Homo sapiens: one gene and its partners. The protein of the gene in region 2 interacts with the protein of the main gene of each other region in a pairwise test. Each region holds a gene or a part of one and is shown on either strand. Other genes may lie near its edges.

The links.
Region 1: the proteins of CLCN7 (region 2) and LYVE1 interact in binary tests that used the Homo sapiens proteins (3 or more experiments, as listed by UniProt).
Region 3: the proteins of CLCN7 (region 2) and SLC66A2 interact in binary tests that used the Homo sapiens proteins (3 or more experiments, as listed by UniProt).

The regions. Positions count from the first base shown.
Region 1 is NC_000011.10:10,557,115-10,566,418, reverse strand, and holds part of LYVE1 (lymphatic vessel endothelial hyaluronic acid receptor 1 precursor), read left to right. Parts: intron 1-2,044; coding exon 2,045-2,216; intron 2,217-2,339; coding exon 2,340-2,479; intron 2,480-5,618; coding exon 5,619-5,924; intron 5,925-6,524; coding exon 6,525-6,603; intron 6,604-7,121; coding exon 7,122-7,308; 3' UTR 7,309-9,304. UniProt on the Homo sapiens protein: Ligand-specific transporter trafficking between intracellular organelles (TGN) and the plasma membrane. Plays a role in autocrine regulation of cell growth mediated by growth regulators containing cell surface retention sequence binding (CRS).
Region 2 is NC_000016.10:1,471,152-1,481,200, reverse strand, and holds the start of CLCN7 (H(+)/Cl(-) exchange transporter 7), read left to right. Parts: upstream 1-6,172; 5' UTR 6,173-6,226; coding exon 6,227-6,367; intron 6,368-9,437; exon of another isoform or gene 9,438-9,577; intron 9,578-10,049. UniProt on the Homo sapiens protein: Slowly voltage-gated channel mediating the exchange of chloride ions against protons. Functions as antiporter and contributes to the acidification of the lysosome lumen and may be involved in maintaining lysosomal pH.
Region 3 is NC_000018.10:79,947,301-79,957,269, forward strand, and holds the start of SLC66A2 (solute carrier family 66 member 2), read right to left. Parts: upstream 4,354-9,969; 5' UTR 4,281-4,353; intron 3,731-4,280; exon of another isoform or gene 3,726-3,730; 5' UTR 3,627-3,725; coding exon 3,424-3,626; intron 2,262-3,423; exon of another isoform or gene 2,219-2,261; intron 42-2,218; coding exon of another isoform or gene 1-41.

The DNA of each region.
Region 1 (9,304 bases), on a different chromosome or scaffold from region 2:
TGGGGGCCGGGTTGGGCACGGTGGTTCATGACTGTAATCTCAGCACTTTAGGAGGCCGAGGTGGGTGGATCACCTGAGGTCAGGAGTTTGAGACCAGCCTGGCCAACATGGTGAAACCCCATCTCTACAAAAAATACAAAAATTAGCTGGGCATGGTGTCTCGCGTCTGTAGTCCCAGCTAGTCAGGAGGCTGAAGCACAAGAGTTGCTTGGACCCGGGAGGCAGAGGTTGCAGTGAGCATGGATCACGCCACTGCACTGCAGCCTGGGTGACAGAACGAGACTCTGTCTCAAAAAAGAAAAAAAAAAGGGCCAGGCACAGTGGCTCACGCCTGTAATCCCAGCACTTTGGGAAGCCAAGGTGGGTGGATCACCTGAGGTCGGCAGTTCAAGACCAACCTGACCAACATGGAGAAACCCTGTCTCTACTAAAAGTACAAAATTAGCCAGGTTTGGTGGCACATGCCTGTAATCCCAGCTACTTGGGAGAATGAGGCAGGAGAATCGCTTGAACCCAGGAGGTGGAGGTTACAGTGAGCCGAGATCACGCTATTGCACTCCAGCCTGGGCAACAAGAGTGAAACTCCGTCTCAAAAAAAAAAAAAGAACTGGGGTTCTTGCTTGGCCATACTGGTGCACACCTGTAGTTCCAGCTACTCAGGGAGGCTGAGGTGGGAGGATTGCTTGAGCCCAGGAATTTACGACCAGCCTGGGCAACATAGCAAGATCCATCTCTTGGGAAAGAAGAAGGAAAAAAGAGGAACTGGGGTTTTAGAATCAGGCATAATTGAGTGTGTGCTCCTAATCTGCCACCACAGCAAGGTTCATATGGAGGACTTAGAAATGCTCCTTCCATGTTTTCAAAAAGAAACTTCCATTAGATATCAACCTAGGAAGTGGTCAAAGCATTTGACTGAGCATCCAATACACAGAGCTGCGTACAAGCAATTACTTGAGAGATTTAAATGCCCTTTTATGGATGTTTGTGGATGAAGCCCAGTAGGAATAATGTATTTGAATACAATACAACTTGGCAATTTTATACAGGTCTGTACATCCCAGAACCCAGAGAAAAGGGTTCAAAAGAATTCCCAAATCCATTAGATTTTGAGTAGAAATATTATTCATATCTTACCTATTCAACAGCCTCAGCTTCTGTGGGGTAATCAATCATTAGCAGACCAAAACCAAAATGCTTTAACGATAATGATAATGTTATGTGGATTTATTAAGCACCTACCATGTGGCAGGCACTATGCTAAACATTTGTATTAGAATTTACTCACTTAACTTTCACTACCCTATTCAGTAGACACTGTTACTCCCTTGAATTTATAAACAAGGAGGCTCAAAGAGCTGAAGATTAAAGAGATGAAGTATCTAGGCTAAGGTCACAGAGCTAGCAAATGACATATGCTAGATCTAAGCCCAAGTCTGACTCTAAAATTCTGCTTTCTTCATTTAGTTTTTCTGCCATTCAAAGTTTACTGCCAGCTCCTCCAGGAACTTCTGAGTAAGCCTGTCCCCCAGTGGCCAAAAGACCTGGAACTGAGAGCACTCACATTCTTTTATAACAAGTGTGACATTTTCAGCCCATCTCACAAATAGTAGTGTCCCCAAACCACATTGGTTTGGGGTATTGCTAACTATTCTATGAACTAGAGCCCTGAATTCTATCTTTCTCAAAGTCTCAGATGCTTCATTTTACAGACTCCAGAAAGGTTTGCAGTAACTGCATCCCTTAGACTGCACCCCAACAACAGGTAGCCAAAGCCCCTATATGGTGAGCAAGGCATCTTAATGCAGTGGGATGGGATAGATTTTGATTGGGCGACATTTACAGCTTGGACAAGAACAAGCATCCATCTAGCCCAGCAGATGGTCCTTGTGGAAAATGCCTGGTCTGTGTCCTGTTATTCTAAACCCCAGTCCCAGCCAGATAGACCTCCCTGCGCATCAGGACGATATACTCTGCTGGGAAGGAGAGTCTAAGGGCTGGAAACAAGGACAGCAGCAAACTGAGGACCTATGTGATTCCTTTGCAGAGCTTTCCATCCAGGTGTCATGCAGAATTATGGGGATCACCCTTGTGAGCAAAAAGGCGAACCAGCAGCTGAATTTCACAGAAGCTAAGGAGGCCTGTAGGCTGCTGGGACTAAGTTTGGCCGGCAAGGACCAAGTTGAAACAGCCTTGAAAGCTAGCTTTGAAACTTGCAGGTGAGAAAAAGCTGGTTTCACTGTCACTGCTGGAGTTCTTTTTTAGCTCTGTGTTCTTGTTCAGCAATAGAGATGAAGCCTTCTAATCATTTTTCTGTTCAACTAGTGTGTATTCTTTTACAGCTATGGCTGGGTTGGAGATGGATTCGTGGTCATCTCTAGGATTAGCCCAAACCCCAAGTGTGGGAAAAATGGGGTGGGTGTCCTGATTTGGAAGGTTCCAGTGAGCCGACAGTTTGCAGCCTATTGTTACAACTCATCTGGTGAGTCTGATCTGCAACCTTTCCACGTGGCATTCTCTGGGTATCTCTCACTCTGAGACCTGTCTGGGAAGAGTAACCCTGAGCAGCAGCAGAAGCAATCACAGCCACGGCCATCTAATTCTCCCGACACTGTCTCTCTGGCCAGGCTAGGGGTGGCAATATGCCCCTCAAAGGAAAAAGTTAGGAGAGATATAACTGAATGGCAACACACGAGAAGACATTCAGGAGGCTCAATTACCACTGCCACCATCCCTGCATCCTATAAGATAAGCAGGCAGAAGGGAAGGAACAAAGGTACAGATGTATGTAATGCATCCATTATGGACAAAGTGATGCACAGTCGTCCCTCAGTGTCAGTGGGAGATTGGTTCCGGCACCCCATCATATACAAAAATCTACAGATGCCCAAGTCCCTGATATAAAATGGGGTCATATTTGCATATAACCTACACACATCCTCCTGTACACTTTAAATCATCTCTAAACTACTTATAATACCTAATACAATGTAGATGCTATGTAAACAGTCATTGTACTGTATTATTTGCTTTTTTATTGTTGTATTGTTATTTTTCTTTTTTTCCCAAATATTTTCAATCCAAGGTTGGTTGCTTCCACCTATATGGAATCTACAGATCCCTATGAGATATGCTTTATCATCCCCACTTTGCAAATAAAGAAACCGAGTTCAGGCCGGGCACAGTGGCTCATGCCTGTAATCCCAGCACTTTGGGAGGCCGAGGCGGGCAGATCACAAGGTCAGGAGATTGAGACCATCCTAACACGGTGAAACCCCGTCTCTACTAAAAATACAAAAAATTAGCCAGGCGTGGTGGCAGGCACCTGTAGTCCCAGCTACTCGGGAGGCTGAGGCAGGAGAATGGCATGAACCCAGGAGGCGGAGCTTGCAGTGAGCCAAGATCATGCCATTGCACTCCAGCCTGGGCGACAGAGTGAGACTCCGTCTCAAAAAAAAAAAAAAAAAAAAAAAAAGAAACCGAGTTCAAAGGATGTAAACACATTTGTCTAACGTCTCATTACTGTAAAGGTTCAGACTCAGGTCTAACTCTGAAACCGCACTCTTTCCACTGTTCCACATTCCTTTATAATTTTAAGAACCAGACCCAGTCTCCACTTTATGAAGGAAAAGATTGACACCTGGAGGGCAGCACTGATTTGTTCGTGGTCATGAAGTCACCCACTAACCTTGCTTGAAGACCTTGGCTGCCTTAGCCCAAGTGCTTCACCTAAGTACTTCTCCTAAAGTTTTTCTTTTACTAAATACTCACTTGCTCTCAGTTTGTCATAAGGACCCCTGTCTGATTATTACTTTTCACACATACTCATCTATCTGACCTTCTGAAGGTTAGGTGGCTGAGAGGTCATACACAGGATAGATTTCAAGATCATTCTCGAAGATCCGAGAGATAAATGTGCACCAGCCAATATTAGCAAAAACTGTCCCAGAAAGGCAATATAGGATCCAAGTAGTTCCCTGATCCAGAGGGCTTTGGCACAGAAAAGGCCCATGGAGAAACTTTGACCAGTTCCCTCACTTCATGGATGAAACAACTACAGTTCAGAACACGGGCTTAGCTTGTTCAAGGTCCTACGGTCAGTTAGTGGCAGAATCAAGACTGAAACATAGGGCTTCTCCTAACAGTGTATTTCCCATCTTCCTTCCCTTCTCTGCCTCTTTGGTCTATCATCACTGGCTGGGGAATTGGTGAGCTACATATGCCTGCATACCTCATAGCCAGCCCATGCCTGTCAAATGGCTTTGCTTTTTAACTGCCTTCCTGCCAGCTGGCAATGTGATGATACCCAGCCCTCTGACTAAACAGAGAAGAGCCAGAGGAAGAGGACTTGGATTTGTCTATTTCCTCATGGTTTCATTTAACTTGTACTCCCATCCCATGTATTTCTTTTCTTTTTTTCCAGAGATAATTTTATTTTATTATTTTATTTTTATTATACTTTAAGTTCTGGGATACACGTGCAAAATGTGCAGGTTTGTTACATAGGTATACATGTGCCATGGTGGTTTGCTGCACCCATCAACCCGTCACCTACGTTAGGTATTTCTTCTAATGCTATCCCTCTGCTAGCCCACCCCCCAACCCCAGCTGATGCTACCCACTGCCACAAATAATTAGGGACTTAAAATAGATGCAAATTTATATTATAATATATTGCATGGCTCTGCCATTTACTAGCTCTGTGACTTTGGGCGAGTTATTCAATTTCTCTAAACTTCAGTTTCCTCCTGTGTAAACAAGGGTTTAGTAATATTGTTCAATGAGATACCTATTTAAACACTTACTGCCATGGTCAACTCAGATTAAGATGCTTTAACAAGTGTTTCCTCTCTAGCACATGCAACAGATTGGAAAGCAAACCCTTATCCCTCTCCTGGTCCCTTTTTGTTCACTTCTTTTTTTAATGAGCCCAGAAATATCAGGTCTTAGCATATCTTTGTCCTGAAGTGACACCACATGTGTATATTTGGTCTTCCAATCTATACTTTCCTTCCTTTCCCTTTTCCTTCCTTCCCTATTCATCAAATAGTTATTGAGCATGTGCTATGTACCACACACAGTGCTCATACCATGCTGACCAAGACAGACGGGGTTTCTGCTGCCAGAGAGCTTGCAGTCCAGTGGGGAACAGTGTAATGAGAACTGTGACAAGGAAGTACAAGAACATATGCCAATCAAGTCAACAAGTCTGCCTGAGAAAGACAGGGTCAATCTGAGACCTGAGGGATGAGTCAGAGTAAGCTAAATAAAGAGAGGCAAAGAGTCATAAAGGTGAATAAAGCATCGTGGTGCAAGGCTTGGATGTAAGATAAAGTGTATCAAGGAATTTCAAGTAATTTCAGTATGGCAGGGGCAATGAGAGAAAAAGAGCAGATGAGGCTGGCATGTTAGCAGGGGCCAAATCACAGAAGGCCTTGTAGGCCATACAACAAAGATAGCCACTGAAGGCTTCTAAGGAAGAAAGTGATATGGTTAGATTTGCTTTTTAAAGACCATTCCAGCTGCGGTATAAGGGGTTTGGAGGTAGTAAGACTAGAGGCAAGAAGAACAGTTAGGAGGCTGTTGCAATACTTTTATTCCATGTTTCCCTATCCCAACAGATACTTGGACTAACTCGTGCATTCCAGAAATTATCACCACCAAAGATCCCATATTCAACACTCAAACTGCAACACAAACAACAGAATTTATTGTCAGTGACAGTACCTACTCGGTGGCATCCCCTTACTCTACAATACCTGCCCCTACTACTACTCCTCCTGCTCCAGCTTCCACTTCTATTCCACGGAGAAAAAAATTGATTTGTGTCACAGAAGTTTTTATGGAAACTAGCACCATGTCTACAGAAACTGAACCATTTGTTGAAAATAAAGCAGCATTCAAGAATGAAGCTGCTGGGTTTGGAGGTAAATGGTTTCTGTGTCTATGTTACGTGTGTATGTATGTTCATGTATAACAGATAATTCATAGAATCCTGCCTGTCTTTAGATGAGGCGCTCAGGACCTGTCAAATACTAATAAAAGCTTAACACAAACTCAACTTTCATGAAGTCATAGAATCTGAGAGCTGTAAAGAACCTTAGTGATTAAGCTAAAAAGTGTAAGTATAAAAGAATTTCACTGTTGAAAACTCAAGACTTTTAAAAATAAATCACTATCTGTTCCTATGCATAAGTTCTTTTTAAAATATATACCCTAAAGGCCTATGACTTTATTCTAGTCATCTCTTTCTCAGGCAGGCTTGTTGACTAGAGTAGGTCTCAAGGCCATGGAGGAGAAATGAACTCTGTCATATTGCAACTGATAGAATTGAGAGTGTGAGAAGCAAGGCCAATGATTCTACAAGCATGAAGCAAAGAAGCTGGTGTGGGCCCAATATCATAAAGGGCTACAGAGAAGGTTTTTCTCCTGTACTGTCTACTGTCTCAATCACCTGGATCATGCAATGAGCATTACACACAATGTTTAAGTGAAGGACCAACAGGCCTTGTCTCTGTTCCTTGCAGGTGTCCCCACGGCTCTGCTAGTGCTTGCTCTCCTCTTCTTTGGTGCTGCAGCTGGTCTTGGATTTTGCTATGTCAAAAGGTAGGGTTGTTGGTGCACTGCTAGTCTTGTAATCTTTGTCATGTTTCTATCCTGTGCTTTTTCAGGGTCACTGTTGGCATTTTGCTGATCAAAATGGAGATAGCAGTCCTCTGATATAAATTTCTCCCTCATCTCATCTCTTTCCCTTCAGCCCAATCTTTTCTATTTCAGGACATGCATGTCGTCCAGCCATCAGTCAATGACTGTCCTTTGAAAATCAAGAAATTAAAAAAAATTGACATCTGGGGAAAATTTATATGCTTTATTTGATTTTTGGTTCTTTGTTTTTGTTGGAAGAGTTATGTGGTCAGCCTAAAGTCTGGCCTGCAAACATATTGTCCAATTTAAATGAATCCATTAAGGTGGTGATGTCTTAATGTATTAGAGCATGCATGTGCTGGCATCACTCTGAAATAAAGGTATCCAGTGTACTGTGCCAATATGTACCATGGCCAAAAAGTGTTATCTATCGTTATGTGTGAGAGTCTCTCACTTTAATTTCATGTTTCTGCCTAAAGGTATGTGAAGGCCTTCCCTTTTACAAACAAGAATCAGCAGAAGGAAATGATCGAAACCAAAGTAGTAAAGGAGGAGAAGGCCAATGATAGCAACCCTAATGAGGAATCAAAGAAAACTGATAAAAACCCAGAAGAGTCCAAGAGTCCAAGCAAAACTACCGTGCGATGCCTGGAAGCTGAAGTTTAGATGAGACAGAAATGAGGAGACACACCTGAGGCTGGTTTCTTTCATGCTCCTTACCCTGCCCCAGCTGGGGAAATCAAAAGGGCCAAAGAACCAAAGAAGAAAGTCCACCCTTGGTTCCTAACTGGAATCAGCTCAGGACTGCCATTGGACTATGGAGTGCACCAAAGAGAATGCCCTTCTCCTTATTGTAACCCTGTCTGGATCCTATCCTCCTACCTCCAAAGCTTCCCACGGCCTTTCTAGCCTGGCTATGTCCTAATAATATCCCACTGGGAGAAAGGAGTTTTGCAAAGTGCAAGGACCTAAAACATCTCATCAGTATCCAGTGGTAAAAAGGCCTCCTGGCTGTCTGAGGCTAGGTGGGTTGAAAGCCAAGGAGTCACTGAGACCAAGGCTTTCTCTACTGATTCCGCAGCTCAGACCCTTTCTTCAGCTCTGAAAGAGAAACACGTATCCCACCTGACATGTCCTTCTGAGCCCGGTAAGAGCAAAAGAATGGCAGAAAAGTTTAGCCCCTGAAAGCCATGGAGATTCTCATAACTTGAGACCTAATCTCTGTAAAGCTAAAATAAAGAAATAGAACAAGGCTGAGGATACGACAGTACACTGTCAGCAGGGACTGTAAACACAGACAGGGTCAAAGTGTTTTCTCTGAACACATTGAGTTGGAATCACTGTTTAGAACACACACACTTACTTTTTCTGGTCTCTACCACTGCTGATATTTTCTCTAGGAAATATACTTTTACAAGTAACAAAAATAAAAACTCTTATAAATTTCTATTTTTATCTGAGTTACAGAAATGATTACTAAGGAAGATTACTCAGTAATTTGTTTAAAAAGTAATAAAATTCAACAAACATTTGCTGAATAGCTACTATATGTCAAGTGCTGTGCAAGGTATTACACTCTGTAATTGAATATTATTCCTCAAAAAATTGCACATAGTAGAACGCTATCTGGGAAGCTATTTTTTTCAGTTTTGATATTTCTAGCTTATCTACTTCCAAACTAATTTTTATTTTTGCTGAGACTAATCTTATTCATTTTCTCTAATATGGCAACCATTATAACCTTAATTTATTATTAACATACCTAAGAAGTACATTGTTACCTCTATATACCAAAGCACATTTTAAAAGTGCCATTAACAAATGTATCACTAGCCCTCCTTTTTCCAACAAGAAGGGACTGAGAGATGCAGAAATATTTGTGACAAAAAATTAAAGCATTTAGAAAACTTCTTTGCTTTCTTATTTACGTAGATGCATTATACCTTTCATGTAAAATTAAAGTGAGGACCAGATCATATCATATTGTTTGCAAAAATAAAAGGGACAATGTTGGTTGTTAAAATACAAGCATATGTCAACCAAACAGCATATATCATATGGGGCTATTCATGCTCCAAACATTTTATTTTGAGTTGGCCAAGTACATACACATTAAACAGTCCTTTACTAGAGATGCTGGCCCTCCATTTCCATCCATTTCAGAATTCACCAGGGAGCCAGAGATCCAGGATGGCTCATTCGTCTCACTTTTGACCGCCCTGCTTCTCTAGTTTTCTCTTTCCCTCCCGCTTAGACTGCTAATTGTCTTCTTCCCCTCACCAGTGACCCCACAGCTCCGTGGTTCCTTCGGCCCAGATGCCACAACCTGCTGGCATAATCTTTTCCGGTTGGCCCACGGAGTATAATCTTAAAATTTGATTTCATTTCCAGGCATTAAAAATCAAGAGATTTCACATGGTTACATTTCTGGGTTCCCTCTAAAAATGGAAAGATCTGGAAGTAAAGAACCCATGTTCCCTCATAGCAATCATTATCTGATACTGAGTAGCAGCTGTCCCCTTTCAATGGGGTCTGCTCTTTTTGTTTCACCACAGTCCTCATGACTCTCTGTTGCACACTCATGCCAAAGTAAAGGTGCCCTTTCCTATGAACTTTGTAACACTGTGGCCTTTTCTTCACACCCAGCCCACGTCCCTCATAT
Region 2 (10,049 bases):
CAAGAGTTTTGAAATCAAACTAACCCAGGTTCAACTCCTGCCTGCTTGTGGGGAGCCTTGGAAAAGTCAGCTTCATTCTCATCTTTAACGCTCGCTGTCCTGTATGACATGGGGGTGCAATGCCCTTGTCACCATCCCTCAAAAGGGCAAAGCCAGCCAGGCGTGGTGGCTCACGCCTATACTCCCAGTACTTTGGGAGGCTGAGGCAGGTGGATCACTTGAGGTCAAAAGTTCAAAACCAGCCTAGCCAACGTGGTAAAACCCCGTCTCTACCGAAAATACAAAAAATTAGCCAGGCTTGGTGACACGCACCTATAATCCCAGCTACTCGGGAGGCTGAGGCAGGAGAATCGCTTGAACCTGGGAGGCAGAGGTTGCGGTGAGCTGAGATCATGCCACTGCATTCCAGCCGGGGCAACACAGCGAGACTCCATCTCAAAAACAAAACAAAACAAAACAAGCACAAAGGCAGGGCACACCCATGAGAAAAATACCTTTTTTCAAAGAATGTTGTTCATGGTATTTCAGAAAAAGTATTGTAGTGTAATCACTGGGGAATTCAAAACCCTTTTAGATTTCCTTCCTCTTATTTTGGGCTTAGTTTTGGTTTTATTTTGATATAAGCAAGGGAGGGTTCCATTATCTTCTCAGCTTTAGAGGCTCTAAGGAACTTTTATTTATTTATTTATTTTTTTTTTTTTTTGAGACGGAGTCTTGCTCTGTCACCCAGGCTGGAGTGCAGTGGCACGATCTCGGCTCACGGCAAGGTCCGCCTCCCAGGTTCACACCATTCTCCTGCCTCAGCCTCCTTGGTAGCTGGGAGTACAGGTGCCCGCCACCATACCTGGCTAATTTTTTTGTATTTTTACTAGAGATGGGGTTTCATCGTGTTAGCCAGGATGGTCTCAATCTCCTGACCTCGTGATCCACCCGCCTCGGCCTCCCAAAGTGCTGAGATTACAGGCGTGAGCCACCGCGCCCGGCCTCTAAGGAACTTTTAAACTTTTGATTTGGAAAAATTTCAAGCCTAAAAAAAGTTGCAGATGAATACATTGCACATCATATATATTTATTCTAGACTCTTCAAGTGTTATCTTTATTATTATTTTATTTATTTATTTATTTATTAGACAGAGTCTCACTCTGTCACCCAAGCTGGAGTGCAGTGGCGTGATCTTGGCTCACCACAAGCTCCAACTCCCGTGTTCACACCATTCTCCCGCCTCAGCCTCCCAAGTACCTGGGACTACAGGCGCCTGCCACTGCGCCCAGCTAATTTTTTTTTTTTTTTTTGTATTTTTGGTAGAGACGGGGTTTCACCGTGGTCTCCATCTCCTGATCTCGTGATCCGCTCACCTCGGCCTCCCAAAGTGCTGGGATTATAGGCGTGAGCCACCGCACCCGGCCGGCTTTATTTATTATTTTTAAACTTTATTTTAGGTTCAGGGGTACATGTACAGGTTTTTTATATAGGTAAACTCATGTCATGCGGGTTTGTTGTACACATAATTTCCTCACTCAAGTACTAAGCCTGGTACTGGACAGTTATTTTTATTTGTTTTTGAGATGGAGTTTCGCTCTGTCGCCCAGGCCGGAGTGCAGCCGCACCATCTCCCCTCACTGCAACCTCCGCCTCCTGGGCTCAAGTGATTCTTGTGCCTCAGCCTCCCAAGTAGCTGGGATTACAGGTGTGTGCCACCACACCTAGCTAATTTTTGTATCTTCAGTACAGACAGGGTTTCACCATGTTGGCCAGGCTGGTCTTAAACTCCTGACCTCAAGTGATCCACCCACCTCGGCCTCCCAAAGTGCTGGGATTACAGGTGTGAGCCACCACGCCCAGCCCAATATTTTGTTATTTTTTTCGGCTCCTCTCCCTCCTCCCGTCCTCCACCCTTCAATAGGCCTCAGTGTCTGTTTTTTTCCCTTTGTGTCCATGTGTTCTCATCGTTTAGCTCCAACTTATGTGAGAACATGCGGTATTTGCTTTTCTGTTCCTGGGTCAGTTTACTAAGGGTAATGGCCTCCAGCTCTATCCATGTGCCTGCAAAGGACACGATCTCATTCTTTTTTATGGCTGCATAGTATTTCATGGTATACATGTACCACATTTTCTTTATCCAGTCCACCACTGATGGGCATTTAGGTTGATTCCATGTCTTTGCTATTGTGAATAGTGCTGCAATCAACACACGCGTGCGTGTGTTTTTGGTTTTGCTTTTTTTCTGAGACAGAGTCTCGCTCTGTCACTCAGGCTGGAGTGAGGTGGTGCAATCTCAGTTCACTGCAACTTCCATCTCCTGGATTCAAGCGATTCTCCTGCCTTAGCCTCCCAAGTAGCTCAGGTTATAGGCGCCTGCCACCACACCTGGCTAATTTTTGTATTTTTAGTAGACATGGGGTTTCACTATGTTGGCCAGGCTGGTCTCAAACTCCTGACCTCAAGTGATCTACCTACCTCAGTCTCCCAAAGTGTTGGGATTACAGGTGTGAGCCACTGCGCCTGGCCTGCATGTGTTTTAATGATAGAACAATTTATATTCCTTTGGGCATACACCCAGTAAGGGGATTGCTGGGTCAAATGTTAGTTTGGTTATCAACATTCAAAGCCTGAATTTTAAACAGGTTGTTGGGCTGGGGGCTCATATCCGTCAGCTCATTCACATTTAGCACTGGTCTCATCCCCAGTAGCTTTTCCAGGACAGCGACCTTCACCACAAAGCTTGAGTTTTCCCAATGCAAGCCTGGGCTTCCCAAGCATTTTTACTTTTCTAAGGAAGACATCCTGGAGAGGATACCTGGATAGACTGGGGAACCTTCTCTGTGTCTCTCCCAGTGCTGTCTAGCATCAATTCATGGGCCACTTCTTTCGAGTAATTTGTCTGCACCTCTTGGGCCATGATTTCCACCATCTTTTCTGGATTTGACGGGCCTGCCAGTGCTGCCTGTGAGAGGTCTTCCCAATCTGCTTGCTGCACTGTTTTAGTAAAAGCAGCACAGAACAGATGAGGCAAATGATCATCTGTAGTTTTGACAACCATATGAGCTTCAATCATGGTCTTTTTTTTTTTCCATGAAAGCTGGTCAGGCTGTTTTTGCACTGAACATCCTCAGTGATTAGCTTGAATTTTCCAGATGCAACTTCACCATTCTGCAGATGAGCAGTACTGACTTCAAAAACACGGCCCTTGAGGCCATCGGGTGTGATTTTGGTTCCTGACGTCCCTGTGCCTGGTGTTTTCCATACTCCTTATGCCAAGCACAGCTGGTGCTTTCGCCTCATGCCAGTCTCTCTCAGACAGTGGACCAACCTCTTTCTTCTTGGCTCCCTTCCTGCCACTTCGGTTAAGGTGCTCGTTCTTGCCTGCTGCATGGTGGTGCAGACAGCCAAGGGCCAGATGTTAACATTGCCATTTTCCCTCCCTCTCAGAAGGCTGCTACTCATTATGATTATTGTCAGGTTTTGAATTGTCCGAGTGTAAGCTGCAGACATAGCAACACAAGGTCCCAAGTATTTCAGTATGTATCTCCTAAGATCGGGGAGCTTTCCTGACGTAACCACAATATAATGATCACGCGTGGGAGATTTACTACTGCTCCAACACCGTTAGCTCATACAGTGTATGTCCAATCTTTGCCAATTGTCTCAACCATGCCAGACCCACGTGAGGTTGTCTCCTCAGCCTCTCTTTGTCTCTTTCACAATACTGACATTGTGGAAGAAGATGGCCTAGATGTTCAGCAGGCTGTCCCTCAAAGTGGGATTATCTGGTGTTTCCCCTTTATGAGTGGACTCAAGGTGAGCATGTTTTGCAGGAATGCTCCGGAAGGGACGTTGTGTCCTTCCTGGTGCATCACATCAGGAGGCACACGATGCCACCTTATCCCATCACCAGCAATGCTGAACTGGGTTGCTTGGTTCAGGTGGCGCCTGCTAGGTTTCTTTTTTCCCTTCACCGTTAAGAAATGCTGACCCTGGGCCGGGCACGGTGCCTCATTCCTGTAATCCCCGCACTTTGGGAGGCCAAGGTGGGTGGATCACCTGAGGTCAGGAGTTCAAGACATGCCTGGCCAACGTGGAGAAATCCCATCTTTACTAAAAATACAAAAATTAGGCCTGGCGCCATGACTCATGCCTGTAATCCCAGCACTTTGGGAGGCCAAGGCAGGCGGATCACAAGGTCAGGAGATTGAGACCATCCTGGCTAACACGGTGAAACCCCGGGTCTACTAAAAATACAAAAAATTAGCCGGGCGTGGTGGCGGGCGCCTGTAGTCCCAGCTACTTGGGAGGCTGAGGCAGGAGAATGGCGTGAACCCGGGAGGCGGAGCTTGCAGTGAGCCAAGATCACGCCATTGCACTCCAGCCTGGGCAACAGAGCGACACTCTGTCTCAAAAAAAACCAAAAGGAAACAAAAAAAAGAAAAATTAGCCAGGTGTGGTGGCGGGTGCCTGTAATCTCAGCTACTCGGGAGGCTGAGGCAGAAGAATCATTTGAACCCAGGAGGCGGAGGTTGCAGTGATCCAAGATAGCGCCATTGCACTACAGCTTGGGTGACAAGAGTGAAACTCCGTCTCAAAAAAAAAAAAAAAAAAGAAGGAAAAAGAAAAAAGAAATGCCAACCATGGCCGGGCATGGTGGCTCATACGAAGAGTCCTAGCAACTCAGGAGGCTGAGGAAGGAGGATCCCTTGAACCCAAGAGGTCAAGGCTGCAGTGAGCTATGATCTTGTCATTGTACTTCAGCCTGGGTGACAAAGTGAGACTGTGTCTCAAAAATAAAAAAATAATAATAATAATTTAAAAAAAGGCCGGGCACCGTGACTCACGCCTGTAATCTCAGCACTTTGGGAGGCCGAGGCGGGTGGATCACGAGGTCAGGAGATCGAGACCATCCTGGCTAACACAGTGAAACCCCATCTGTACTAAAAATACAAAAAATTAGCCGGCCATGGTGACGGGCGCCTGTAGTCCCGGCTACTCGGGAGGCTGAGGCATGAACCCGGGAGGCAGTGAGCCGAGATTGGGCCACTGCACTCCAACCTGGGCGACAGAGTGAGACTCCGTCTCAATAATAAAAATATCGACCTTTTAAAAGGAAGAGGATGAGGCACAAAATATAAAGAGTTTACTCTAGAGGCTAACGTGGAAGGATCACTTGAGGTCAGAAGTTTGAGAACAGCCTGGGCAACACACTGTGAGCTCCACAGCAAAAATTAGCCGGGTGTGGTGGTGCAGGCCTGTGGTCCCTGTTACTCCAGAGGCTGAGGCGGGAGGATGGCTTGAGTCCAGGAGGTCAAGGCTGCACTGAGCTGTGACCGCACCACCGCACTCCAGCCTGGGCGACAGAAGGAGACCCTGTCTCAAAATAAATAAATAAATGACCCAGAAGGTGGGGACAGGGTGGGGGCTGATGTAAAGCTGTCAAGAATTCTCTTTGGTTTATGGAAATACCATTGATTAGTGATGGGCTGTGCCCTGGTGCGGGTACAGGGTCCGGGCGGCTATTTGGCTAATTCACAGCTATCTGCGTAGTAGCCGGCAGTTTCCAGAGGCGACCCTCCTGTACTGTCTCTGGGGCCTGATCGTTGAAGAGGACTCGCCTTCTGTTCTTTTCTCATTAGGCGGGAGGACCCTCTGGGGCTGCCTGGAGGAAGCCTCCACTCCGACCCTCGCCCGAGTGCCTACTGCGAGGGCGGATGCATGCTTCGGGACTTCTAATTTCATCCTTCACGTCTTTAGCCGCCGCCTATGGCAAGGAAAGGCCTGCCCTCGCCCCTGCCTCCCTCCTCCCTTCCCCACCGCGGCTCCGTCACGATCGGCGCGGGCGACCGGGCCTGGGGGAGCCCCTCCAGCCGGCTCCTGCCCTCAGGCCCCGGGCGCTTCCCTCGCCCCGACTCCCGGGCCCGAGGTCCCGGGGGCGGCCATTCGCCTCCCAAGCACTCGGCGCTCAGCCCAACGGGGCCGCCTTTGCAGTCGCGTGGGCAGAACGGGGTCCTCAGGGCCGCGGCGATTCTCTAGGGCGGGCGGCGCCACGACCCGCCGGGAGCGCGGCTCCCAGGAGCCCCCGCGCGACCGGGCCTCGGTGGTTGCCGTTGCAGGTCACATGGTCGCCGTCGCTCATCACGTGGCCCCGTCGCGCGTCACGTGGCCGCCGGCGCGGGTCACGAGAACAAACACGGGGGCAGCCGGCGCTTCCCGGCCGGTGTCGCTCCGCGGCGGGCCATGGCCAACGTCTCTAAGAAGGTGTCCTGGTCCGGCCGGGACCGGGACGACGAGGAGGCGGCGCCGCTGCTGCGGAGGACGGCGCGGCCCGGCGGGGGGACGCCGCTGCTGAACGGGGCTGGGCCTGGGGCTGCGCGCCAGGTGAGGCCGGGCAGGGCGCAGGCGGGGAAACTGAGCCCTCGTGCGCCCCGCAGCCCGCGCCCTCGTGAGCCTTCTGGCGGCGCCGCGTGTCTCGGTCCTGGAGGCGACCGAGGCGCGGTGGACTCGGGAACGCGCCCCGGGGCTCCTCGGCGGGGCCGGGCTGGCGGGGGCGCCTGGGGTCTGGAGTCTTCGGAGGCCGCGCCGGGCTCGGTGGCCGGGAGGGCTGCGTGGGCGAGGCGGAGCTCGCCAGACCCCGCGGAATGTGGGGCGCTGAGGGGCGCCGGGGCAGCCGTGGCGCACGTTCATTCCCTCCGGTGTCCCCCAGACTGGCCCTAAAGGGGTGCAAGTGGCTTTCTGTTCAGGTGACTTTTAAAAATTGTCATCCTACACGAGCAACTAATTTTGTTTGCGTTTTTGACCCCCTGGGAGATGGAAACAGTTAAGATTGCAGCCGGGTCACTGTCTTTCAGTGAGAATGACTGAGCGCCTTTATCTGCCATCTTTCTGTGTGGGGATCAGTCCCGACTTTCAGGTGATCTTGGGAGTGACGAGTATTTGTACTCAGTCTCCCTTCGCACCGAGTTGAATTTGCAATGTGCAGGCAAACACAATAAGCAGCAAGTCAGAGGTTGGAATGCGTTCCGCATGTCACCCTGCAGCGTGCGTCTGAGCAGTGTTAAGGTCTGGAGAACCGTTGCGGGTACATTTGTTTCCCTGTCTGTGTATTGTCTTAATATTTTTTTTTTTTTGAGACGGAGTTTCACTGTAGTTGCCCAGGCTGGAGTGCAATGGCGCGATCTCGGCTCACTGCAACCCCCACCTCCCGAGTTTAAGTGACTCTCCTGCCTCAGCCTCCTGAGTAGCTGGAATTACAGGCGTGCGCCACCGCGCCCGGCTAATTTTGTATTTTTAGTAGAGACGGGGTTCCTCCGTGTTGGTCAGGCTGGCCTCGAACTCCCGACCTCACGTGATCCCCCGCACCTCAGCCTCCCAAAGTGCTGGGATTACAGGCGTGAGCCACTGCGCCTGGCCGTATTGTGTTACTTTTGAGTTAATGGACCGTTTTGTTGATGGGTCTTAATCTGCTTTGCAGTTATTCTTTACATTTTCTCTTGTCTAGTCCTTTAAACACTTGTCTTGTGCTTAAAGATTAGGAAGGACGGCAGGGCACGGTGGCTCACATCTGTAATCCCAGCACTTTGGGAGGCCGAGGCGGGTGGATCATGAGGTCAGGAGATTGAGACCATCCTGGCTAATATGGTGAAACCCCGTCTCTACTAAAAATACAAAAAATTAGCCAGGCGTGGTGGCGGGCGCCTGTAGTCCCAGCTACTCGGGAGGCTGAGGCAGGAGAATCAATTGAACCCGGGAGGCGGAGCTTACAGTGAGCGGAGATGGCGCTACTGCACTCCAGCCTGGGCAGAGCGAGACTCCGTCTCAAAAAAAAAAAAAAAAAAAAAAAAGTTTAGGAAGGACACGAAAATCAGCCTGTTTCCATAGAACCTACATTTAGGTTTTCCCAATTCCTTAGAAACGCACCAGACAAAGAAGGTCATAGTCTGCCTTTTGCTGATAAGAAGCAGCAGCTCAGCTCCCTTTGAAGTGGGCCCTCCTGCTCTCCGTGCTGTAGTCTGCATGAAAAGTGATCTGAAGGGGTTAATTTGAAGTGATGGGGCCATGGGTGATTAGTTATTTGTGTGTATGCCTGTGTGTGTATGTGTATGCCTCTGTGTGTGTGTGTGTGTGTTTCTGTTTTAAAAGAAAGGCCAGGTGTGGTGGCTCATGCCTGTAATCCTAGCACTTTGGGAGGCCAAGGTAGGGGAGGATCACTTGAGCCCAGAAGTTCAAGACCAGCCTGGGCAAAATAGTGAAACCCTGTCTCAAAAAAAAAAAAACAAAATTAGCCAGGTGTGGTGATATGCATCTGTAGTCCCAGCTACTGGCTCGGGAGGCTGAGGCAGAGGAGTCGCATGAGCCCAGGAGGTTGAAGCTGCAGTGAGGTGCTTTTTTTTTTTTTTTTCCGAGGTAGTTTGTCACTCTTTTGCCCAGGCTGGAGTTTGAGAACCTATCTCAAAAAATTTAAAAAAAATTTTTTTAATTAAAGAAATCTGAAGTTCACAAGGTAGAAGGAATAAACCCAACTTTAAGGGCTGAAAGGTAAAGATTAGGAACCTTGATGGAGGTTGAATTTGAGTTTCTCTTGGGACTGAATGTGCTTGGGGTTTCCTGTCTGTCTTTGCAAATAGAAGAGTTGATTTTTTGGGAAATAATCTGTTGATCTCTTAACCTTAGAAAGTATTCCCGGCTGTGCACGGTGGCTCATGCCTGTAATCCCAGCACTTTGGGAGGCCGAGGCAGGTGGATCACCTGAGGTCAGGAGTTCGAGACCAGCCTGGCCAACATGGTGAAACCCCATGTCTACTAAAAATAGAAAAATTAGCCGAGTATAGTGGTGAGCGCCTGTAATCCTAGCTAGTCAGGAGGCTGAGGCAGGAGAATCGCTTGAACCCAGGAGGCAGAGGTTGCACTGAGCCGAGATCACGCCATTGCCTGGGCAACAAGAACAAAACTCCATCTCAAAAATAAAAATAAAAAAACTATTCCCTTAAAAGTCATTGTAAGCTTATTTGTTTGTTTGCATTTAATAACAGCGGATACTCTGCTTACAAGCAATTTAAAAAATAGTTTATCGTGCACTTGCTCTGTGGCTGCCTGGGACGCAGGCGCATAAAGCTGCTTCCTTCCTGCTGGAGACAGGCCCAGTGCCCTGTGCGGATGGTCTGCAGGGCCCCTGGGGCAGGAGCAGTCACAAGGCTTGGGCTTGAAGAGCACAAGATCTTCAGGCAGGCGGACGGGGGGAAAGGACAGAGGGAGTGTGTGTTTGGGATGCGCTGTGGAGCCTGGAGGTCAGCCCTGCTGCGCACATGAACAGGCTTTGAATTTGGCTCATCTCTAGGGGAGCCCATGGGAAGCTAGGACCCCATTCCTGAAGGGCCCCAGCCTTCCCCTGCAGACAGACTGGAGAGGCGGAGTCTAGAGGCCAAGACACCACCTCTTAGGCCAGGCGTTTGTGCTCTGAGCATCGGACTCGCCGATGGCCTCCTGCAAGGCCTGTAGCCTCCCTGTTGCCCAGTTTTCCCGTCTGCGAAAAAGTTAACGCATGCATAGCGCTGAGCACGGTGCCTGTCACAAACTACGCTCTGAAGAAACGTGAGTCGTGCCCGGTCGTGTTAAAACCAGCAACACAAGAGGGATTCGTGTTCGTTGTGACTTTCCTGTCCAACTTCCTGAGTAGCTACTGGATTTCTTGGTGCTGCTTTTCTGGGGGAGGGTCTGCTCTGACTGGTGGGCACAGCTCACAGTTAGGCTCAGGCGCACCCCAGTGTGGCCACAGACGGGGTACTGTAAGCTGCCCTTGGGTTCAAGGCCTCCAGAGCTGTTTTGAGCTAAAATATCAACCCAGGCCATCCCCTGCTGACGGGACTGTTCCAGTGAACATGAGAACTGGTCCTAGCTGCCTCCAGGCTCTTTAGGGTTTGTTGCAGGATTTTCAGGTTGGCTGGTGGTGTCGTTGCCACCTCAGCGTGGGCACAGCTGGCCAAACACTATGAGGTGGCTGCCCTGGGCAGGGCAGACTGTGGAGTGGCTTGTTGGAGGCTGGGTGCCCGCTGAAAGCCCAGGC
Region 3 (9,969 bases), on a different chromosome or scaffold from region 2:
GTGATCTGCTGAATGCTGGTTTTGCAAAATGGTAGTAAGGACTGTAAGAAACAAAAACATGAGTGACCTATGTTTCAGAATCCCTGGGTTTGTACTGTTAAAGCAGCCCCTGCAGGACTGCAGAGCCCCATATGCCATGCACCCCAAATCCCCAACGGGGAGCTGCCCAGAGGGACTGGAGCTCTGAGGACCATGCCCCAACAGCTTTGGAGGCGTGAAGATTCGAACTCCACCTCTGCTCTCCCCGTCTCCCGCCCCTTCTCACCAGAGCCCAGCCCAGCCCCACCTCTGCTCTCTGCCCCCACCCCAGCCCCTTCTCACCGGAGCCTGCCCCCGCCCCACCTCTGCTCTCCTGCTCCCACCACCCCCAACCCAAACACCGAGTGTGCCTGCGCATGCGTGGAGCTGGGGTTGTGTGTGATGCATCCCGCGTGTCACTTCTGCTAAAGCACAAATCCTCTGCCCTACAAACCATGAAATCAAAGAGGCTGTGAACCTACAAAGCCTGGAGAGGGGAAGCCAGGAGTGGGGGGTCACAAGAGGCTCCCAAGAGAGAAACAGAAGGGGTCATCATCCCCCTCTGCACAGCAGGACCTGGGGACCGGGTGGGCACAAGAGGATGTGTGGTAGGTAGGGAGGTGGGCTTCGCTGTGTGGAGTGCAGGGATGGCGCATCCTCAGGCTGGAGGGACGCCCAGCAGGAACGAGCGCCCTCTGCTCTCCCCGCTTTCATCCCACCATCTTCTGGAACACACTGGGGCCCTGCGTGTGCACTCAGTGGTCACAGAAGCCATGCATGACCAGGACAGCCCAGGATGTTGATTCTATGAAGAGACCCATGGACAAAGTTCAGAATTCCCTGGAAGGCTGCCCTGTGCTCCACAAAGAAAGAGCTCAAGTGTCTCTCCAAGGCCTGTAAGCAAGAACTCCCAGTTCCAGCTTCAAACCTCTACGTCAGTGCCAGTTAGGTCATGAGGCAATGACAAGATGGCACCAGGAAACTGGGTTAATCTCTGACTTCTCCAAACCGATACTTAGATGGACATTAGATAGATTCTTTTCTTTCTTTTTTTGAGACAGGGTCTCTCTCTGTTGGCCAGACTGGAGGACAGCTCACTGCAGCCTCGAATTCCTGGGCTTAAGTGATCCTCCTTTCACAGCCTCGCAAGTAGCTAGGACTACAGGTAATGCCCCCACACCTAAGCTAATGTTTCAATTTTTTGTAGAGACGGTGTCTTGCTGTGTTGCGTTGGTTGGTCTTGAACTCCTGGCCTCAAGTGATCCTCCCACCCCGGCCTCCAAAAGTGCTGGAATTACAGGAGCGGGCCACCGTGCCCAACCTAATTTATTTTCTTTTAGCAACTTTGAACTATGAGCATACTGGGGAGGGAAACCTCTAAGCGGAACTTCTTTCCCGTATGGTTATCCACTCTCAGGCAATTTTCCTCCATTATTTTGGAGAGAATTTATTCTATAACCCTGAAGACGAGTGCAGCGCTCCTTCACAACACACACGTGAGCTGGGGCTGTAGCAGGTGGCCTGCCGACCAGCGTCTCCCCAACCCCCACAACATGCACTCAAAGTAAACAACAGCATTAGACAATTAGAAACCTACTTCCAGTCAACCTTACGCTCACTGAGGCCACTGCAGCACCGCCAGCCACGTCTCCAAAGCAGGCGATGGGAAAGAAAGAAGGAGTCTCCAAAATGAGCACCCCTGAACCTCCCTCAGATGCAGCCTGGCCCAGAGACAAACCTCGAGACGGGACTCGGACCCAAAATCCTCCTCCGAGGTCGTTGCAGGGGACAAACCTCCCTGCCTCAGAGACAACTCTGGGGAAGAGGCAGCCAACCCACTCGCTCACCTAAAAATCCCTGGCAGGGGCAAAACTAACACCCAGGGACACATGGACCAATGGCTGCCCATGGCCAGGGCTGGGATGAAGGCCACGGAGCAGGGAGCACCCCGGCTCATGAACACGGGACACCTCAGCATCAGAACTCATCAAATGGACACGAAAGGGGTGTATTTCATGGAATGCAAATCACACCTCAATAAGGTTGACTTAAAAACTAACAGGCGGGCCAGGCGCGGTGGCTCACGCCTGTAATCCCAACACTTTGGGAGGTCAAGGTGGGTGGATCATGAGGTCAAGGGATCGAGACCATCCTGGTCAACATGGTGAAACCTGGTCTCTACTAAAAATACAAAAATTACCTGGGTATGGTGGCAGGCACCTGTAGTCCCAGCTACTCAGGAGGCTGAGGCAGGAGAATCACTTGAACCCAGGAGTCAGAGGCTGCAGTGAGCCGAGATTGTACCACTGCACTCCAGCCTGGCGACAGAGCAAGACTCTGTCTCAAAAAAAAACAAAACAAAACTAACAGGCAAAGAAGCAGGTACGTGATTACTCAGTGACCAGAGTCAGAAGCAGAGTTCTTGACACCAGCTGCCTGGACTCCTTCTCTCCACCCCTCCACCAGGCCCTCTTCATAGGAAGAGCAGCAGACACCTTCCAATCTGCCCGGACAGAGAGGCTGGGATCACCCAGAAGAAAGAAAAATTTCAGACGTTTTTGGCCTTAGAATGCAGCTGTGAGACCTCATTTCCTCTGAAAACTCACCCTCCCAATTATGTCTGCCTTCAACAACTGTTAAAATTAATTTCAATTTCCTTAGCCTAATACAAATACAAAGAGGAAGTTGGGGAGAGGAACAAGACAGTCTCCAGAGAGAGTGACTTCCTATTTAAATAAGGCAGGCCAGGCGCCGTGGCTCAGCTTGTAATCCCAGCCCTTTCAGAGGCCCAGTGGGGAGGGATGCTTGAGGCCAGGAGTTCGAGACCAGCCTGGGCAACAAAGTGAGACAACCCCCCACTCCCCTGTCTCTACAAAAAATACAAAAAAAACAATTAGCCGGGTGTGGTGGTGCGCCTGTGGTCCCAGCTACTCGGGAGGCTGAGATGGGAGGATCACCTGAGCCCAGGAACGTGGAGACTGCGGTGAGCTGTCATGTCATCATGCACTTCAGCCTGGACCACAGAGCAAGACCCTCTCTCAAAACAACAAAGAAAAACTATACAACATGAAAAAGGAGGGCAGGAACGGCTCCTCTCCACAGGCAGGCCTAGGCCAGTGCCCAGCTGAGAGGTCCCTGCTAAGTACCCATGTGGAACATCATGCAAGGAGGCGGATCTGGAGATTTTCTCTGAGATTCTGTGCTCCAACCCCACCGTTTTTCTGGAAAAATAATCTCACCCTAAGAAGTGACTTGCCTGCAGCCACGTACCCCATCCACGGCAGAGTGGGACGCTGGCCCAGCAGGGAGGTGTGGACCCTGCTGCTCCCCCGGCCTCAACCAGAAACCCCAAAGGAGAAACCCTCTTCTCCGGGTGCAGCCCAGGAAAGCAAGCCCCCAACTTACCAGAAGAGTATCCGCAAAATGTTGGCCACCAGCAGCACCAGGCACACGTAGGTGGAGAAGCCGTCGGCGTTCTGCGTCCTGCGAATGTCCCGATACTGCGGGACGTAGGGCACCACCCCTCCGAAGACCATGGCCGCGGCCGCGCCCCAGGACACCAGCTGGTGCAGTGGCACCAGGAGCCAGTCCAGGCCCTCGGCCTCCATCGCAGCGCCCGCCTGGCCGAGGCTGTCACGGGCTCCGCGCCCCGCGGGCCACCGGCCGCCTGCTCATCGCCGCTCCGCGCGCTCCTGCGGCCTCGGGGCCTGCGGGGAGCGGGGAGCTGCTCGAGTTCCGCCCAGGGAGGCTGGGGCGGCGCGCACGGACCCGACCCGACCCGCGCCAGCCGCAGGACCCGAGGCAGAGCGGGGGCGACCGGGGCCCGGGGCGCGCGAGGAGCGGCCCCTGCCTGGGACGGGGGGGTGTCTGGGGGTCCCGAGACGCTCCCGGAGGGGGCTGGGGAGGGGTCCCAGCGCCGGGGTCGAGGACGGGCGAAGCCCCTGGGGTCACCGCCCGGGTGCGCTTAGCCGGCGGGGGTCCACGCGCGCCCCGGGATGGGGTGGGGGAGGGGGCGCAGGGCCCAGGATCGGGGCGCACTGTTCGGGGGAGGGTCACAGGGCCTAGCATGGGGGCGCACGGCTCGGGGGAAGGGGGCGCAGGCCCAGGATGGGGGCGCACGGCTCGCGGGAGGAGGTGCCGGGCCGGGGACCCCACAGGACCAAGCCAGGGGACTGAAGGCCGCGACCAACTGCCCCGGCCCTGCGTCCTCGGCCGCCCTAGGCCGCCCCCCGAGGACCCCGCGCCGCCCCCGCGCTCCTTACCTGCGCCCCCAGCCCCGCGCCCAGCGCCCCGCGTCCCCGCGCCGCTGACCCGCGCGCGTCTCGGCGTCAGTCCGCTCAGGCGCCGGGAAACCCCGCCCCGTGACGTCACAATGCCGGGCCCCGCCCACGCCGGAGCTGCGCGGAGGCGCCGCGGTGTCCTAGAGCGCGCTGGGCAGGGCGGGCGCAGGCGGGGCCGGGAGCCGGGGCTGTCGGGGCGGTGGGGGCGCGTGGCTCCTCCCGCCCGGTCGGGAAATACCAGCCGGGCGGGGCCGGTCCCTCAGGCCTGGCGCCCACGTTAACCCGTCTCCAGCTGTCCCGGCGCGCGGCCATCCAAGCGGAGGGCGTCGTCCTGGAGGGCCGGGGGCGCGGGGTCCGGACGCCCCTCTCACGCGTGTCCTGAATGCGGGCCACCCGGGGACGAGTCTCGTCCAGCTCTGTCCTGACCCAGGAGACCCGGGGACCCGGCTCGGAGTTTGCAGCGCCCAGAGGCGGCCGGGGTCTCGGGAAACGGAGCGCCCCCCGCGGGTCTCCGCTCCGATGCAAGTGCCCCACGAGCAGATGCGCCGGGGCCGTCGCCGGGGGGCCGGCTGGACGCGCGGCCGTCACCGTGGCCATTGTCATTATCGTGGTTGCGGCCACGGTCGCTGTCGCTGCAGAAACGCGGGGCGGCCTCTCCCCATCCCCGTGTAGTTCTCCGGGCTGAACCGTTGGGCGCCTATTTGCAGAAAAGGCAGCTCCTGAGCCTCAAGACAGACTCGGGGGCCAGGCGTGCGTGAAGCCCGGGCCCTGCTGCCGGCCTCGCGTGCCAAGCCAACTCCGAGCCCCACACCCGCCCGCGGGGAGCTGCCCTCGCCCGGGACCCTCTTGGCCCGCGCGGGTGAGGACTGAGGGCGAGGGGCGCGTGGATGAGGGGCGCGCGGGTGAAGAGTGAGGGGAGCGCGGGTGAAGTGTGAGGGGAGCGCGGGTGAGGGGTGAGGGGCGCGCGGGTGAGGGGTGAGGGGAGCGCGGGTGAGGGGTGAGGGGTGAGGGGAGCGTGGGTGAGGGGTGAGGGGTGAGTGATGCGCGAGTGAAGGGTGAGGGGCGCCTGGGTGAGGGGTGAGGGGTGAGGGGCGCGCCGGTGAAGGGTGAGGGGAGCGTGGGTGAGGGGTGAAGGGTGCGCGAGTGATGGGCGGGTGTGTGTAGGGTGAGGGACGCGTGGGTGAGGGGCGCGGGGGTGTGAGGCGAGGGGTGCACGGGTAAGGGGCGAGCCGCGAGGTTGAGGGGTCCACGCTGAGGGTTGCTTCCCCGCCAGCCGCGGCCTCTTCTCCACGATCCCGGCCCCCTGCCCCCTGCCCCCTGCCCGACTGGTTTTATGGGGGATCATAAGGACAGTCACCACCTAACTAGGAGCAAATCCCCAACAATCGAGGAAACAGGGCGCTCCTGCCTTGCGCCCCCAGGCTGGCGTTGGAACTTCTTTAGAGCCAGCGCTGCGGAGCCCCAGCACCAGGAACGTAGAGGTGAGTAAAAGGCACAGCAGGAAGCCTGGGAGAGAAAAAGCAGCTGCCCCTGCTCAGCCGCGCCCTAGCCTGAGCCCAGCAGCCTTTGGGATCATCTGTCCTCTCTGCCCTGGAGGTTGGAGTAAGCTCCGGACCTCCTTGACCCTCACGGGAGCACTGGGGTCCCAGACGCTATCCTCGGTTATCTTAAATCCAGAGGCTGTGGAGGCATGGGGCAAATTGTGCCCGCAGCCTGGGGCCTAGAGCTGCATCTGTGCACGGGGCCTCCAGGAGCCCGGCTCAGTGGACGAAATCTGGCATGCTCGGACGTCACCCCACAGGCCTCACGCCTCAGAGGCACCCCGAAAGGTGAGTTGATGACTGCAGAGTGAGTTTGTACCTTTTCGAACACCACCTGCCGGGGGTCCGAGCCCCCACCCCCAGTCTACATCAGCCAATCACAGCTCATTGCAGGTGCTGCGCTTGTCACATAGCTTCCTGCAAACAAGAGAAGCCGACCAAGCCATGCACAGCTGGAAAATGGCCCTTATAAAGCCATCAAGTCCTAATCCAGGCAACCTGTAAATATTACCTCGTATGGGAAAACAATTTTTTTTTCTAATGTCATTAAGGATCTTGAGATAGAGAGATTGTCCTGGATTATCCAGGTGGGCCCTAAACACTGTGGCTCACGCCTATAATCCCAGCACTTTGGGAGCCTGAGGCAGGTAAATCTCTTGAGCCCAGGAGTTCGAGACCAGCCTGAGCAACATGGTGAGACCTCGTCTCTACAAAAGATAGAAAAATTATCTGGGCATGGTAGTGTGCACCTGTAGTCCCAGCTACTCCTGAGGTGGAAGGATTGCTTGAGGCCAGGAGGTTGAGGCAGCAGTGAGCCAGGATCGCACCACTGCACTCTAGCCTCGGTGACAAAGTGAGACCCTATCTCAAAAATAAATACATACAACAGAGACAGGGTCTCTGTGTTGGCCAGGCTGGTCTTGAACTCCTGGCCTCAAGCGATCCTCCTGCCTTGGCCTCTCAAAGTGCTGGGATGACAGGCATGAGCCAGCGTGCCCGGCCACATGCATCTTTGTAAGAGGGAGGCAGAAGGAAATTTGGTGCCACACAGAAGAGAGGGCCATGGGAAGATGGAGCAGAGATGAAGATGGGGCCTTGAAAATTGACGTGATGCAGTCCCAAGCCAAGTAACGCCGGAGCCACCAGAGGCCCCAGAAACAAGGAGCAGATTCTCCCCAGGAGCCATGCGAGGGAGCCTGGCCCTGCCAATGCCTTGATTTCAGCACATTAAAAGTGATTTTGGACTTTTGGCCTCCAGAGCTGTGAAGGAATAAACTTCTGCTGTTGTAAAAGCCACTTAGCTGTGGTCATTTGTTGCAGGAGCCAATGAGTGACTGACAAGATCAGAGCTGTGACACAGAGGAAGCAGAGCTGTGCCTCATGCTTTCCAGGCTCTGCTCATGAGAAACAGGTCACTGGGTTGGCCCGGTGCAGATTAAGGTGTCACGTAGGAGCATGAATACCTCAGGGAACCACTTAAGAATTTGCCTAACACATGGTGCTTATAAAAGGAAAAGCAAACAAAGCAACCTTGTTCTGAGAGCTGGGACATCAGAGGAAGATTGGAGCCACTGTTTCTCACTCAGCCTATTTCTTTTTATTTTATTTATTTATTTTATAGAGACGGGGAGCTCACTATGTTGGCCAGTTTGGTCTTTGAACTCCTGGCTTCAAAGGATCCTCTCACCTAGGCCTCCCAAAGTGCTGGGATTACAGGAGTGAGCCACCTTGCTGGTCGCGCACCCCATTTTTTAAGGAAACCTGTACGGAAGGTGGATTGGAAGTCTCACTTTAGGAGCCTGGCTCAGAAGTTCCGCAACTTCAACTGGTGTCATGTGACGTGCTTGGCAGTCACCACCCCCATCCTTACAGCAAAGAATAGCAGGGCAGCCTTTCATGGGCCCATCAGAGAACTAAGGCTGCCAGACAAACTGGCACCCTGCTCTGAAGAGACAGGCACATCCAGGGAGAGACAGCACCTGAGAGCTGCTCACCCAGAGCAGAAACTCCTGGATAAACTGGCTTTAGCAGAAAAATTAGACAACATGCAAGACCAGATAGGTGATATCAGCAGAAAGATGGAAACAATAATAAAAAAAAAATGCTAGAAGTCAAAAACACAATAGAAATAAAGAATGCTCATTAGTTGACTAGACAGAATGAAGGAAAGAATCAGTGAATATGAAGATAAGTCAACAGAAACTTCCCAAACTGAAATTCAAGGAGAAAAGGTGATGAAAAAAAAAAAAATCAACTGATCTAGTTTGAGTGTGTGTCCCCACCAAATCTCATGTTGAGTTATAATCACCAGTTTTGGAGGTGGGGCTTGGCAGGGGGTGTTTGGATCATGGGGGCGGGTTCCTCATGAATGGCTTGCACCATCGCTTCATCCCCTTGTGATGAGTAAGCTCTCACTCTGAGTTCATGTGAGATCTGTTTTTGTTTTTGTTTTTGTTTTGAGACGGAGTCTCGTTCTGTTGCCCAGACTGGAGTGCAGTGGCACAGCACAGTCTCAGCTTACTGCAACCTCCTGGGTTTAAGTGATTCTTGTGCCTCAGTCTCCCGAGTAGCTGGGATTACAGGCTTGTGCCACTATGCCTGGCTAATTTATTGTATTTTTAGTAGAGATGGGGTTTCACCATGTTGACCAGGCTGGTCTCAAACTCCTGACCTCTTGATCCACCCACCTCGGCCTCCCAAAGTGCTGCGATTATAGGCATGAGCCACCGCGCCCGCCTGAGATCTGTTTTTCTTTAAAGTGTCTGGCACCTACCCACACCCTCACTCTCTCTCTCTCTTGCTCCTGCTTTTACCGTGTGAAATGCCTGCTCCCACTTTGCCTTCCGCCATGAGTAAAAGTTCCCTGAGGCCCCCAAGAAGCTGAGCAGATGCTGGTGCCATGCTGGTATGGCCTGCAAGAACTGTGAGCCAATTAAATCTCTTCTCTTTATAAATTACTCTGTCTCAGGTATTTCTTTATAGCAATGCAAGAACAGCCTAATACACCAACAGAAAACACCATCCAAGAACAACATCAAAGGATATGATTGGTACAATGGGAGAATCGGAAGGAGGAAAGAGGAGAAGGGGCAGGAGAAATGGTGGAATGGCAAGAATGTCCCCAAATTAATGACAGACACCAAACCATAGATCCAGGAAACATACAGAACATCCATCAGGACAAATAACAAAAAACATAAAGCAAAACAAAACAAAAAACCACACCTAGGCTTGTCACATTCAAACTGAATAAACCTGCCTGACTGAACCCTCGTCCACCAGCCACAGCTACACCTCTGACAAGACAAGAGACAGATTTCAGTAACTCTCCTGGTAAGAGACCACTGACCATGGCTGGTCCCGGCTGGTTTACAAACTCTGTGCACCAAGTGCCTTTGAGTCTTAGAAAGACCTTTTGATGTATAGGGCCTAACTGTAATACATGTAAATGTTACATCTCTACCCCAAAGTGAACATGGGTCATGTGATACATACAGCAAGACCCCCTTCATGAATATTCATAGCTCCTCATGTAACCTATTAAGTATATTTAGCCAACCAAGTCAGCATAAAGCTCGTGCCCCATCCTCTCCTCCTCTGAAGGGCCTGTGTCTGGTCTTGTGGGATGTCTATCTTGCAAGTTATTTAAGAAATAGTCTCCTTTTCTAAATGCAGTGTTGTGTGATTTTTTAAGTTAACAAGAGGAATATGAATAAAAATGACCGTGGACTTCTTGTTAGAAATCATGCGGATAACAAAAGGGTAGAGTGAAATCTTTTTTTTTTTTTTTTTTTGAGACAGAGTCTCGCTCTGTTGTCCAGGCTGGAGTGCAGTGGCGCAATCTCGGCTCACTACAAGCTCCGCCTCCCGGGTTCACGCCATTCTCCTGTCTCAGCCTCCCGAGTAGCTGGGACTACAGGCACCCGCCACCACATCCGGCTAATTTTTTTGTATTTTTAGTAGAGACGGGGTTTCACAGTGTTAGCCAGGATGGTCTCGATCTCCTGACCTCGTGATCTGCCTGCCTCGGCCTCCCAAAGTGTTGGGATTACAGGCGTGAGCCACTGCGCCTGGCCGTGAAATCCTTAAAGTGTTGCAGTTGAAAAAAAAAAAATCTGCCCACCTAGAAT